2 linked regions of the Homo sapiens genome follow. The protein of the gene in region 1 interacts with the protein of each later gene in a biochemical or structural test. Each region holds a gene or a part of one and is shown in the gene's direction. Other genes may lie near its edges.

Evidence for each region. Proteins that work in one complex are often made in the same cells at the same time.
Region 2: the proteins of GJD2 (region 1) and LNX1 form a complex in vitro, tested with the Homo sapiens proteins (2 studies listed by BioGRID and IntAct, with this or other methods).

Annotation. Positions count from the first base shown.
Region 1 is NC_000015.10:34,751,999-34,759,408, reverse strand, and holds the start of GJD2 (gap junction delta-2 protein), read left to right. Parts: upstream 1-4,410; 5' UTR 4,411-4,920; coding exon 4,921-4,991; intron 4,992-6,036; coding exon 6,037-6,931; 3' UTR 6,932-7,410. UniProt on the Homo sapiens protein: One gap junction consists of a cluster of closely packed pairs of transmembrane channels, the connexons, through which materials of low MW diffuse from one cell to a neighboring cell.
Region 2 is NC_000004.12:53,588,465-53,596,240, reverse strand, and holds the start of LNX1 (E3 ubiquitin-protein ligase LNX), read left to right. Parts: upstream 1-4,754; 5' UTR 4,755-4,853; intron 4,854-7,776.

The DNA of each region.
Region 1 (7,410 bases):
GACTTGATATAAAAGTGAAAGATTATGTGTCAGCAGGAATGATTTGATTCTTAATGCAGTGTTAATTTATTTGCTGTGATTTCACACATCTGCTTTGGCCACAATACCATATTACATTAATCCCTGAGATATTATTACACATAGGTATATTCTCTATATACGAGGTAGTCGGGGAATGGGGGAATTTGTATATGTAATTTTTTTAAAGGCTATATACTCTTTTATTCAAAGAACTAGCAGGCAGAAGACTTTAGATTTCCTTACCATTTGGATACATAATCTCTTGGGCCTAAGACATGATTTGGCATTTGGGTCCATGAGATGGCAAAATAATTTTGAAGATAGCAGATTCTGGAGAATCTTAGACCACAAAGCAAGCCACTATATTTAGGGCTACTTAAGATTGGTACATCGGACAGCTTTACTCTCTTTGGAAACATTACTTCATAAATTTTGTCTGAACAGCAAAATCAAGTGTTTTCCTAAACATTTGAACTGAGGCTTATACATAGGGAAGGACACATGAAAGAAAAAAAGAGAAAAACCACTTTGCAGCAAATAAAAATAGATTCCATCTGCCACTTAGGTTCTTTTGAGTCTCCCAAGACAGGTTGGGGTTGCCCCTTAAGAAGACAAGTTGATGGTTTCATTAGGAAACAGATGCACGTAGGCCACTGGGAGAGATAAAGCTCAGTTAATCCTAGCTATTTGTGAATGAAATGTAGGAGAGTTCAACACAGAGATCAATTCCAAATCGAATGCAGTCCCTCCCATGCCACACAAATTTCAGGAGGCTACAGATGCTGGTCCTTCCCAATCCAGGACTGAGCTCAGCTAGCTGGGGTTGCCTCTCTGATGCTGCAGCCCAAGCCTTACCTGCTCAGCTGCATTCCCCCGGTCAGTTCAGCGGGTGTCTGGACTGCAGTATTGAGAGAATAATGGAAGTGAGGGCAGGGGGCTGGTGGTTAGTAAGAAGGCTTTCTACTGAGGGGTCCAGGCTATCCTAAGTGTGTAGGAACTTTCACTTCGCAAAGGGAGCCCCTTTCTCCTTTCTGACTTGAATATTACTTGTGATTGTGGAGGACACCCAGGACCCACTTCTCCTCAGGAAAAGTGCAGTTCTGCTAGGCTGAGGGGAATAGAGAGCCAGAATAGCTGACCTTCACTTTCAACAAATGCTTGAGTTTAAAGACGCTATGAAAAGAACCATGACATATGAGCATGCTCTCTGATCTCTAGGAATTTACAGTCCAGTAGAATAGAGGTCAGTAGATTAATGTTCATTCTTACAACATATACAAAGCTCCTATGAGGTTTCATTTACAAAACATTTGAAGCTGCAAGGCTGAAAGGTTCACCTGGGAGTCTGTGGTTGAGAAGAGAATGAAATTTTGAGCACATATAAGGATAAGAACAAATTCAGACACCCCTATGTAGTAAATGGAATCATTGTTAGTAGCTCTACATTCTCTCCTGTATTATAACATTCAACAACACCCTTTGCTCCATGCCTTTGCAGTTTTTCCCACTAGATGTGGATAATATTTCCCTGCTCTGTTAATGGAAAATACTATTTGGTAAGACATAGATTTGCAGATCAACAATCTAGGTATTTTTTTCCTCTAAATGTCTGGAGGTGAGCATGTTCCCACTTTAATTCCCCTTTTCTTCTTCAAATATCACATTTTTTTCATACTTTTAAATAATTTTGATCTTCTCTAGGATTCTGAATACCACATTCTTCATAGCTTTTCCTTTGCTACCCATATGATTTTAGGCAAGCTAGCTAAGCTTTGGGTCAGTTTTAACACTATGAAACAAATGGATGATAGATTTCCTCATCCCTAGGATTCACTCCTGCCCTAATAGTCATGGAACTAAAAGTTCTCAGGTTTTTATTGTTATTGGAGCTGTGGATGAGAACCCGTTAATAACACAGCTACCTCAATCTTGTTTCCATAGATTTCAATTTAGCAGAATTGGGATGGGATCGCAGCATCTGTCTTTTTAATGAAGATCCCCAGACAGTCTGTTGTGCAGCAAAGGTTATTCTATGAGCATTCTACGAATTTCATTGTTTCTCATCCAAAACTATTATTTTAATAAACAGAATGGCTTTTAAATAAGATGTAATGGAAAGAACTTCCCAGCTGCCTTAAACGGGGGTTTTCAATCAGAGGAGAGTTGAGATAATCAGAATCTATCAAGAAGATACAATGCCCTGAGGAAACTGAGAGATGCCCGGATCCACAGAGAACCATTTCACATTTAATGCACATTTGTTTATCGGAACAAATTATTAATTGAAAATGGAGTTGACTGGACTTGAAGGAGGAAGTACAATGTAGTAAGTGTGAAATTTATGAGTGGTTATTAAAAATAAAAATGGTTATTTCTGAAGTGTGGTGGTGAGACTAAGATTTTTATTTAAAAGTAGCCTACACAGTCCAACTGATGAGTTTTAAAATATAGGTTCTATATATATGCGTCTTTGTGCACTTATACACCTATGTTGTTTGCACATGTTTATATGTGGAATCTATATGGCATATTAAAGTATATTTCAAAATAATACACAAATGATCAACAATTCAGTCATAGCGTAGTGTCTGATAATTGCATTTCCTGCAGTCTATGTTCTTAGGATCATAATCTTTAACGGTTTGGGAAAGCCAACACATAAAATGACAATTTTGAGTTGTGCAGCCTATTTTGGGACATTTAAAGATGTTAAACAGATTTCCCTTTGGACTTACTCATTCACTTCTTGGCTAAGATCATTTACTATAAGAGAGTCTGCCAGACAAGGAGGGAATACAGGGACCTAGGGCCAAGGGGAGTAGAAGGGAAACCTGGGAAAACACACCAAGTTTGGGTTAGGGGATCACCATTCCATCTGGAAGCTAACTGGATAATAGGGTATCCATTCGTCCTCACCCTTGAACCTCCTCCGTGTTCAGAAGGAAACTAATAAATCACTTTATCCCTCTCTCCATTGTTAGTGGACTCTTTTACTCCTTTGCAGTGAAAGGCTGCTTTCTTGGGGTAAAGATGTCAACCCTAGCAGAGGATTTCAGTGATCTTTCTGGCGGCGAAGCTTAGACCGTGTGTTTAAACATCATTTTATGAAGAAGTACACTGTGAGTGGACTGAGGGCCATGCCCTGCACCTTTCTTCCCAGTCCCTGGGCCACCAACTACCCAACCACCTCGGTTGTTCCAGAAGTGAAGGCTCACCATGGTGTGGCTTATGTAATATACATATGTGCTATGATCCCTGTGGATAATTAAGGCTAGGTCCCTTTATATGCCTAGGACAAGTTAGCAACCCTTTCAAGGTCGTGTTTTCGAAAGGATGACAATTACTTTCCCATTGGACTTTTGGTACATTTACATCAAACACTGCCAGCTACAGTGTCTCCTAATACTGACCCCTGGGCTAATTAGCAGCTTAGTGAGGTTGTTTCAATTTTTCAGCAACCAATTAAGTAGTTGCTCTAGACAGAACTGACAACACAATGTGAATTTTAAAAACCGGGATCTGCTGGTTGAGGGGAGAAAGCCAAACCCAGTAAGGCAAGTGGGGGCAGGGCGAGGCTGTGAGTGGCTCTGTTTCTGCTAGCAGAATACTGGGTCTTAAATTCAGATTAAATCACAGTTTACCTGACGAGTACCCCGCCCCCCCTTCCCATTAGTAAAATAATAGCAATAATTTAAAAAGAGCCGAGCATCTGGGTTAGTGCAAGGGGAAGCGAGACCTTTAACCATGGCCACCCCACTTGCTCTTTGCGAGGCACCTGTTAGATGCGCTCGTGTGCCCTGACCCCTATACCGAGAGACAGCTCCACACCTGCATTTACCCTTCAGCCTAAATGGATTCCCATCAAGCCTTTCTCACTTCACTGTCGGATCCACAGAGGCACCGAACCGCAGCCACTCTGCAGAAGCACTCTCAGCCACTCTGTCCCCTAAGGGAGATTTAAAAGTGGTCGCCCCCACTCGCCCTCCCTCAGCCAGCATCTCCATCTAGGGAAGGAATTTCAGTTGTCTCCAGGAGGCAAAAAGCGAAAAGGTGAGGGATGCACCGAGAGAAGAGAAGATACCTACTCACTCCCCTCCCCACTCACCCACGCGTCCGCTCCCGGCTCCCCCTCCGCCTGCTTGGGTCTGGCGGTCAGGTGAGGTTACCTGGGCTCCCCGAGAAGCCCCGAGGGGCGCTGCAGTCCTTCCTTTCGAAATCGCCCCGCTCCCCGCCGGGCCTCCAGGACTCTTGCCCCTCTCCCCCCGCGCGCGTCCCCGGCCCCTCGGGCTCCGACGCGCAGCGACAGCCGCACGGCGCGCTCTGCTCCCCTCCGCCGACCTGGCGTGACGCAGGCGGAGACTACTTAAGGGCGGATTAGAGGCGGCGGCCGCGGATCCCCGAGCCCAGCATTCGGCTCCGCGCGCTCGGCCCTGGCCTCGCAGGCTGCCGCGCCGGAGCGCCAGGTGCCCGCTGAAGTAGCAGGAACAGAGCCGGTGTTCGGACCCTCCCCTGGCCCCCAACCTGCGGCGGAGAGCGGCGCTGAGACTTCTCCTGGGCGGGCGAGCGCTGGAGGACCTGCAGGCTGCCACCCCGCCCCGCCCCTCGTCCCGGCGTCCGCGGGATCCAGACCCGAACCCCGGACGGCGCCCGAGGTTCGTGCCCTCTCTCTAGACCGCGCCAACTGCCCCATCGGTCGGGACGCGCTTGGATTTCTTTCCCCATTTCTTCTCTTTTAAGTACAATAAAAGGAAAGGGGGATTCGAGGATTTTTTAAAAAATTGCTTCTTTAATTGGGAGGCAATTCACTCCCATTCTGGAAGTGCGGCCCGGGGAGGGGCCAGGAGCGGGAACGTGCCCGGTGCTGCCCAGTCTTTGTCTGCTGCCTCCGGATGCACAGCGATGGGGGAATGGACCATCTTGGAGAGGCTGCTAGAAGCCGCGGTGCAGCAGCACTCCACTATGATCGGGAGGTAAGGGCGCCAAGCCGGCGGTCAGGGGGCCCCGTCGGGCGGCCCCCGGGAGTCCCTTCTCACACCTGGACTGAGTCTCCCGCTCCAATCCCCAGTCCGTCCTCTGCCTCCTCCCCATCGTCCTAGGTCAAGGCTCCGGTGTTCCCGGCGATGAGGGATTACCCGACGCCCCGCGATGCCCCCCTCCTCTAGCTACTCCTAACCAGCTGCCCATCCCTTCCCCATCAAGCACCACTGGGGCTTCACTCTTCCCACATCAGAAAAGGAGCCGCTGGCTCAGTCTTGGTCCCTCCACTCTCCAGAGTCAGAGCCAATCTCCATTTGGTTCCCTAAATAGAATCTACAAAGAAGGCAGGATTGCATTTGGACAGAAAAGGGCAAATGGGGAGATGGATTTGCTCTTCAGAGCAGATGCCTCTTTTCTCAACAAATAATTACTAAACCAAACTTATTTGGCGGTGTAAACTTACCGAGCCTACACACCCAATTGCCATTTTTGGGTCTGTATCTATATCTATGTCTCTATCTACCTAGCTTTATATATATATGAGTTCAATATATATGAATATATATTCATAGCCATCTGCTTATATAAAGCATTAAATTTAATATTCATGTTGAGAATAAACTAAATATACACATGGAGTAGTTATTTACACACCCTGTGTGTAGACCTCGAAGCATGCACCATCTGTAAAGGTATTCTGTGTGCATTTGCCATATCCAGAGTGAAGGTGTGTTTTGTGTTTCTATACATTCTATATAGAGAGATGAAATCTATCTGTTGCAAGTAGACTATGTCCAGTGTATGGAGATGTGTGTACCTGGGATCTCTATAATATGAAATATTCCCAGCCTACCAGCACTCAGCAGAAAAGGAAGAGACAAAAAGCTTTCCCAGATTCCTAGTTCAGTACCAGCCCGGGATGGACAGCTCCCCAGTCAAAAGACTGGTAAACACCAGCAAAGGGAAGGGAGGAGCAGGGGTTTCCTGTCAGTGACGCAGCCCGTGAGAACCTCTCTCCCTCCCTCTTCCTCCGTTCAGGATCCTGTTGACTGTGGTGGTGATCTTCCGGATCCTCATTGTGGCCATTGTGGGGGAGACGGTGTACGATGATGAGCAGACCATGTTTGTGTGCAACACCCTGCAGCCCGGCTGTAACCAGGCCTGCTATGACCGCGCCTTCCCCATCTCCCACATACGTTACTGGGTCTTCCAGATCATAATGGTGTGTACCCCCAGTCTTTGCTTCATCACCTACTCTGTGCACCAGTCCGCCAAGCAGCGAGAACGCCGCTACTCTACAGTCTTCCTAGCCCTGGACAGAGACCCCCCTGAGTCCATAGGAGGTCCTGGAGGAACTGGGGGTGGGGGCAGTGGTGGGGGCAAACGAGAAGATAAGAAGTTGCAAAATGCTATTGTGAATGGGGTGCTGCAGAACACAGAGAACACCAGTAAGGAGACAGAGCCAGATTGTTTAGAGGTTAAGGAGCTGACTCCACACCCATCAGGTCTACGCACTGCATCAAAATCCAAGCTCAGAAGGCAGGAAGGCATCTCCCGCTTCTACATTATCCAAGTGGTGTTCCGAAATGCCCTGGAAATTGGGTTCCTGGTTGGCCAATATTTTCTCTATGGCTTTAGTGTCCCAGGGTTGTATGAGTGTAACCGCTACCCCTGCATCAAGGAGGTGGAATGTTATGTGTCCCGGCCAACTGAGAAGACTGTCTTTCTAGTGTTCATGTTTGCTGTAAGTGGCATCTGTGTTGTGCTCAACCTGGCTGAACTCAACCACCTGGGATGGCGCAAGATCAAGCTGGCTGTGCGAGGGGCTCAGGCCAAGAGAAAGTCAATCTATGAGATTCGTAACAAGGACCTGCCAAGGGTCAGTGTTCCCAATTTTGGCAGGACTCAGTCCAGTGACTCTGCCTATGTGTGAGAGGGCAGGTTTCATGAAGGTCTGGGGGATGGCAAGGAGCCCCAAGGCAGATGACTGCTCAGACGTGGCTGTATCCACCCTCATTTATGTGACCCTCACCATTAAGATGTAGGATAAGACTGGATAAAAGAAGATTTTGCACCAATGGGAAAGGAGGAAAAGTGGACCCATTTTCACATATCACCTAATTGGTTCTACAGAGACGATTGGGTAGAGTGATGAAATGGATCAATTAGACTTCTTTGGTCCCTTTCTGTTTATGGCCTAGCCTGATCCTGATAACACTGAACTTGCACAGCTACCAAGTAGGACTTAGCCCTGCTGAGCTCTTTATTCTGGTGAATGGTGTGAGTTGAGTACTTCATTGATATAAAATTTGTGACCTATCTCAACCCATCCCTTTATCCTGAGCCATGGGACAAACATCCTTGAGGCACTCTTCATGTATCTCCCCCACCAGCATGCCCCTTTCCCTCAAT
Region 2 (7,776 bases), on another chromosome or scaffold:
GAGAGAAATGGAATATCTTCCATATACACAGAACCAGATGGCATTCTATCACATCAGCTGATGTTTGTGATTATTACTCTTATTTCCCATAATTGCCCTTCTGAGATCTGCTCATCTGCGTTATGCTAAGCACATATAATTAGCCAATAAAAGATATGGAGCTGAGCCCATTTAAAAAAGTAATTACGGCCAATATGATGGTATGTAATGTAATAAGCAAGTCCAAATCATAATGTTAAATACCTTTAGAAGATAGCCAAAGAGGTTTTTGTAGAGATGACTTTTATTAAAGTCAAATGGAATATGTCCATTTTAATTGTGGCATTCAATCATCATAGACAACTCTAGAAATATGTCATGGGAAAAAAAAATAGGAAGCAAAATGGGCAAAGTAATTCTGCTGAATCACAAGGCATGGTCTTCGCTGTAGGTTCATTGCCAGGAGGAGTCCTTGAGAACGCCAAGCTTCATGGGGGGATCTACAAGAAAAGAGCTTTGAAGACAGACCTCCTTCCCCCCTTAGATTTCCCTGTCAAGATATATAAAGGAATTCAAACTAATCAAAAAGCCCAAGTGAGCCGGCTGGTTAACTAGGACAGGCCCAACTTTGAGTTCAGAAAGCTTTCTAATGTTTTCCACCTGCCTATCCAAAGAACAAAGTTTCCAGGATATGTTGACTGCAAAAGAGGCTTGCTCCTAAAGAGAAAGATCATGTGGTTGCCGAAATGGCATATCCTGGAAGTTTAGCTCAATGCTGAAAACCATTGTCATGCATAAGAAATTACCCCATGCCCAAGATACTGAGTTTCTTTTTCTTAAGCTGTTTAATCATCATGAGAAAAGTAGTCAACAGGCATGTGAGGACATGAAGCAGTTAGCCCTTGAGGTTCCCGAGGCTCTTTACAGTCTCAGCCCATCTAAATTTAGCAATCAGTGGATCCTCTTCACCCTAGCAAGGTGGGTATTTCATTGTCTCGTATTCCTCTTCTCCCCCACCACACACATGTTCCTCCCCAACAGATATCTGCTATGATCATTCCTGTTCCACCCATGCCACTGCCCTGTCTGGAATGATCTGTGCCCTCTCACCACCTCTCCAAATCGTTCAAGGCCCAATTCATGTTCCTTTCTTCATGAAATATTCCCCAATGGCACCAGCCAACACCAATATTTTTGCTTCCTGATCAGCCCTCTTCTCTGTCTCACTTACTGTCCAACTAGAGATAGAAAAGGGGACCAAGTGGCTCGCACCTGTAATCCCAGCACTTTGGGAGGCCGAGGTGGGAGGATCACTTGAGGTCAGGAGTTTGAGAACAGCCTGGGCACCATAGTGAGACCTCATCTCTAGAAAAAATTTAAAAACTAGCAGGGCATGGTGGCACGTGCCTGTGGTCCCAGCTACTTGGGAGGCTGAGGTGGGAGGATCACTTGAGCCCAGGAGGTTGGGGCTGCAGTGAGCCATGATGGCACCACTGCACTATAGCTTGGATGACAAAGGGAGAGTTGTCTCTAAAAAAAAAAATTAAAAAAGAAAGAAAGAAAAGAAAGTAAGAAAGTAAAAGAAAAGGGTTTGATCTTGGGGGGTAAAACCAACTGCTAGTGTGCCTGGAGTAATATCTTCAAGATTCCAAAGTTCCTTCTGAGTTGAAAAGTGTCATGGTCTTTAGCAATGACAGTGAGAATGGTATGGGAGGGGGGAATGGAGCACTATATGTCCAGGATTTGCCAAGCCTAGTCTAAACCATTCTTCCTGGTAGTGGTTTATAATGAAACTTAATTTTTCATTGTCTCATATTTTCCAAATGTATGCAGTTCCATGTTCTTATGGCCACTCGGATTAAATTTTCAGATTTTAAAGTGATAGGCCGCAGAAGTTACAGAGAAAAATGACCATAAAAGATGTCATAGAGAGTTACAACTGGTCATTCTTGAGGGGTCCCTCAAGCTGGCCTTCCATCTTGGGGTTGATTTGATAAGCTCTCAAAAGATGATTTCAAGTGTGCACCCAGGGGCGATGGATTTCCTGGTATGATTTCTCATAAATATATGCATGAATTTATGAATATATACATATTTATATATACATATATATATATATATTATACACACACTTTCAGCATATAGACCAGATTACTAATTAATTTCCAAATGGAGACATCCTTTATCAGAAACTACCCTCCCCAGGGCTACTTCTACAGGTTTCTACTTCTCCTTCTGAATAATGGGTAAGAAGCTGAATGTGTCCAGGAAGTGTCCCAGTGAGCATGAAATCAGAACCTTCCCTCTTTTCTTTCCAGTGGTTAAAAAGTGGGCCTTGATTAAAAACTGCTCTGCCGCTTGCCGATGAGCTTGTCCTTAGGCAGTTTCTCAGATTCACTATGTCTTGGTTTTCCCAGCTGTAGAATGCAAATAGCAATGATACCTGACACAGGGTTCTTGTATAAAGTGCTCAGAACAATAAGTAGCACCTGTTAAACACAATGTTCATTTTTATGATTACATTTTTTTCTAGTAGTTTAGAAATATAATTTCCATGATAATGTAACAGCCCTAATGGCCCAAAAAAAAAGCCCATATTATTTTTTTTAACCCCTGCATATTATTCGAAATCCAGGAGTACCAAGAAAGATCTCACCTGAGAAGGCTAATTGTGTAGTTTTTTCTCTTCCTTTATACACTATACCTGGGAGTTAGCTCCACTCCTGGATTAACTCTTATTTCTCTATTTTCTTTCTGTTTTACAACAATTCATCACACCACATATGTAGATGACTGTGTGTATGTGAACATGGCAAGTGAAACCTCACGATCTCCAGGCTGTTCGGTGAAGCTTTATGCGAATTCATTTCACCTACACCCTTCCCCTGCCCACCCAAGGCCTTGAACCGAAGCCTGTGATCCCCTCCCAAGTTGGATCCTGCCCTTCGCCAAAGGCAAGACCGCTGAAGGCGTGGCCTTCTAGATGATTCATCAGGTTGGCGGGCTCTCCCTCCCCTCCCCCTTGCCCAGGGGACACCCTGTCCGCGTGAAGAGGGGGGCCTTTGTGTGAGTGATGTTTCTCAATTATCAAACTAGTGGCGTGAAACCTTTTCCTGAAACACCTGAGTGTAAAAGGTTTTGTTACCTCCCTTTTTTTCTTTTAAATAATAAAGGAATAGCCACACCTACCTTAGTTTCTATTGGATAAAAAGGTGAATAGTTTTGTTGTGGTGGTTGTTGTTGTTTTAAGCCTTCAACTCTCAAAAGGCACAGAGTTCCCAGGTGCAAAGAGGTAGCTTAGACCTGTCTGGGGCGGATCGGGGACAGGAGCCAGCTCCCCTGAGGTCGAGCACCAGAGCCGGCCCCCAGACCCCGCCCTCGACTACAATTTCTCTTCCTTCTCCTCCCCCTTGCTTTGCGAGCTATTGACTGACTGCAGCCAGCTGAGGCCCAGGCTGTGGGAATCCGGACTTCCTTTTCTTCCCTCTCCCATTTTTCCTTCTTCCTCCACCCTCCCCCAAACCAAACCCCAAAACCTCTAGGTAGTCCAATATTAAAACCGGTGGAACAAAAGCATTCCCAAAATCAGGAGGAGGGAAAGAAGAAGACGAGGGAGGCAAAAGTAGGAGGAAAATAGGAATGTCAACATTTATTTTCCTGAAGGGGAAAAAAAATTCTCTCTGGGCAGGCAGGCCATCTTCCGGGACGGGGAATCCACAGTTTCCTCAGGTAATGAGTTCCAGGGATGCTGGATGCAGGTGGTAAAAATACGCAGCGTTTCAATGGGATGATGGGAGATGTTTACAGCCCTCCTGGGAAGATGCCAGAGAGTTTAACAGTCCTGGGATACCTCCCAGCTGCCTGCTCTGGTGCTGGATGAGTTTACGCCTCCTTTCCTGCTGGAAAAGGTGAAGCAACCAGTGACTTGTCCAGGGTCACACACCACGCTTGGGACAGAAATAACTCTGACGTCTCTTTCCTGGCTATATCAGCAGACAACATCGCCTAATGACAGTACTACCATTCCAATCTGAATCATTTAAATTGCTCCTAATTGCAGGCCTGCAGTGCACTGTAACTGCCGTATGACTCTAACTGCCAAGCCAGCCGAGATAGGAATGACTGAAGTTTTGCAAATTCCTGAATATGGAATTAAAAATGCTGGGCGGGGGAGGGGGTAGCGCAAAAGTGTTTGAAAACCACTTTGAAACTGCTGACAGGTATCCTATTTCAAATTGTTTAAAAGATGAATTGGAAATGTCAACTTAAATTTGTCATTTTATTGGAATTAGAGAAACACTTGGTGTTCAAATGGATGCGGTTCGAAAAGGCACCTCAGATATTTCTAAGAAGTTCGGCTTCACACTCTTCCTTTTTGTGTCTGCTAAATTACTGTCTCATTTTGGTGTTTAAACTTCCCTTTTAACTCCTTTGTGGGCAGATATGGGGAAAGGGGAGGGCCTGGGAAACAACCAGGCATTTGACTTCAGATCTGAACACGGGGCTGGACACGTGCTGTGCTCAGGAAAGAAAGTAAATTCCACCTGGCAAATTGCTCTAACTGATTTATTTGTCCACAAAGAGACGCCACCTACCTGCTTGCAGGTATTCAGGTAAATGACAGGTGGGCGGGGCCTCCTGACTCTTTCAATCCCTAAGGTCTCAGCAATGCTTTATCTGTCGGGGCTTCCGTGATGTCACCCATTTCCTGGTCTGGAGCGACCAATGCCGTCCTCCTTCCTCCAGGCACCTGTTCACCGAAGTTGAGGCTGGTCACAACTCCGGCGGCCCAAGGAGCTGCTCGGTTCACCCACAAGGAATGAGAGCTGCCTGCCTGCTGCTGCTTGGAGAGCCCCAGACAGTCGCTTGAAGAGGTGAGTTGAAACCCTCCATTTTTCTCTCTTGGCATTTAGACCACTGGCCCCTGAGGGATCTGAACACGGAATTTGAATGAAAAAATACAAGCTGAACGGCTTGTCGCTAGTGTTTGCCCCAGAGGGAGAAGCTTTTTTGAGACAGAAGAGTAGAGAGATGACTTTGACATTCTAGTTGCACAATAAACTTCTCCCAGGCCAGATATTTAATCCTTTTTGTTTCTCTGATCATTAATCCAGCCTGTGCTTGTCCTCGTACTTGATCTGATTAAAACAACAACAACAACCTAAAGAGAAGTAGAGTGAAGGCTTTTGTTTTGAAACTTAGCGCGAAGGTGCAGATCTGTTCAGCCCGTTTAACGGGGGCTAGGAGGCCAGTGCAGACTGGATTCAGAGTTCTTATTTTTCCTTTTCTTCCTCCCTGTATTTTGATCTAAACCTGTGAAGTGTCCCTAGTTTTTTTTTCTTTCCCCCTGAAAACCTGTTCCTCAGGGCAAATTCTGTTGCCCTATTCAGAAGCTGTGCGTTCCAGTTTTCCTCTCTTCTCTGAAAAAGTCTACCATTTTCTTTGCTCTTTGTTGAACACTCTTTTAAATACGACTTTGCAGTGTGCATTTAGAATTTGTTTACATTTAGACCTGGACTGGCTGCCTGCTGACCTTTGGTTACAGTAAGAATTAATTCCCTCATTGCTGCAAGAATGTGACTTCAGGTCTGATTTTTAATTTTTTGGACCTCTTTGGCTTTTTCTGTCTCTTTTTCTTTTAATAGCAAATATACCGAGGAAGTTGTTCTGCCAGGACCTGGCTTTTAAAGTAATTTTACCTCTAGGATCCATTTTTGTTTTCTTAATCCTGATCACACAGCCTGTATCTTGACAGCCCAATAGTCAAACTCTTTAGCCAATATTGTTGTCAGAGAAAGGAAACCATTTTTAAGCCCAGCTGCCTGCTGGGATGAGCTGGAAAAACTGGAAAAAGAAATAAATCTGCGAGACACTTCATTCTAGATTCCAACATCAGCTGTTTTTCTGAGATTTAAGTTAGCAGATGTTTGCAAGGGAATAATCTGTTAGGAATTATGCTCCTGTTCATCCACCCAGAAATACAAAATGCATGTAAATTCTCCCAAGGTATGAATTGAAACAAGCTGAGATCATTTTTGCCTTAGACAGACAGTCGTTCCTCACCACTAAGAATCTGCCCAGTTCTTGTTGCTAATTTCTGTCTTACTGTTTGGAGGTCCCTATTGTTCTTCCTTAACTGACCTTTGTTTATTATTTTCCCCAAGCTTGTGAGTTTAAGGGGGGGGGTTTGGCCACCACTTGTCTCTTACTAAGGTTCTCACTTGATTCAAAGCTTGGATCTTCTGATAAAAGTGCATCTAAACCTCTCCTCAAGATTACATTGCCTCTGGTTTACCATGGTTGATTAGTGCTTTTCACAGTAGTTAATTTATGATTAAATAAATAATTTCATCACTGTATGTCAGCATGTCTGAGTACTAAAGGAACAAAGCTGTAGACACTGTACCCCCAGGTAGAAGAAAGAAAAGAAGTGACAAAGACTGGAATTCAGAGTCAGATTGACTAGAATGCAGTTGGTCTGTTGGGTAATTTACACACAAGTCCTGTCCAGAGTTCCTGTGGTAACTCCACCCATTGGTTCAAGTGGACATAGGCCTGATGGAAAAATGTGCAATCTCCTTCATTTATATCCTTGAGCAAGTTACTTCTCTGACTTTCAGTTTCTTCATCGGTAAGATGGGAGATAATAATCCCCATGATCTAATGTGGTTGTGAGAAGTAAATGAGGTAGCTAATATATGTTAGCATCCAGCGACCAATGCCTGGTGTTAACTGGTGCTAAACTGAGGCTAGGTTCTTCCTTTGGAAGGAATTTTCCTAGGTTGCTTGGAGGAGAGAGTCTGACTCTATCAAGATAAAGATCATATGTGGTTGCAGTTGTAGGAACCTTGATAGTTCTTGTTATTGTAATTAATTGTAGGTAATTAACTGCAATGTTAACAGTTTGGAAAAAGAAAACAGGCAGGAGAATTCTTAAACAATGTCATCAAACAAGGTGGGCAGATTTGTCTCCGCTAGCCTCACAGGCAAAGCTTTTAGGAGTTGCTGGCTGGCTGTGATTTCTTCCTTTTCCCACTCTAAGGCTCTCATCCTGCAACAGACCCACAAAATGTGATTCTCCATGGGCCTTTCGGGGGAAATGTCCAGTTGTCATTGCTGTAATCTGACTTGGCAGAGAGTTCTTTTTGCTGTCAGTCGTGCTATCTCCAGGGCAGACTGGGTGTTTGGTCTCCTCCAGTCTCACAGATAAACACCCTTCTCCCTAACCAGAGTGAGGGTTCATGCCGAGCCTCTGGCAGGAGGAAGCCCCTGGTTTGGAGCCTCATTGTACCATAGAAGGAGGTTCATGACCCATTGGATGTGATTGGCCTTGTCATGCAATACCCTGTGCCCTTGGGTGACCTTGAGTCATTGCATATGAGCAGTTGTGTGCCCAGGGCCCTGGTCACTTCTCTGGGTCTCGCCCTTCAGGGATACCACAAATTTTCATCATTCAAGAGTAAGGGATTAGTGGATTGAGGTCAGTGGGTTCTACTGTTCTACTAGCTTGCCTACGGAGCCCTAAGGGAGAACCTCAACCCCCCTGCATGTCAGTTTCCTTAGCTACATTTTTCCCCAAAGGACGCTAAAATGGTGTACTTCACAGGCCCCCTCCATCCTTACAACTGAAGCAAGGTGGGCTGCATGTCCAGGTGGGTAGGTCAGACTGACTGGGGGGACTGGGTAGTGCCTCACTAGAAAATATCAATCTTATTCATTCCATTCTAGGTGGGGCAATGCTACTGCTTTAGAATAGTGGTCTGGTCTCTGGCATCAGGCTGCCTACCTGGGTTTTTG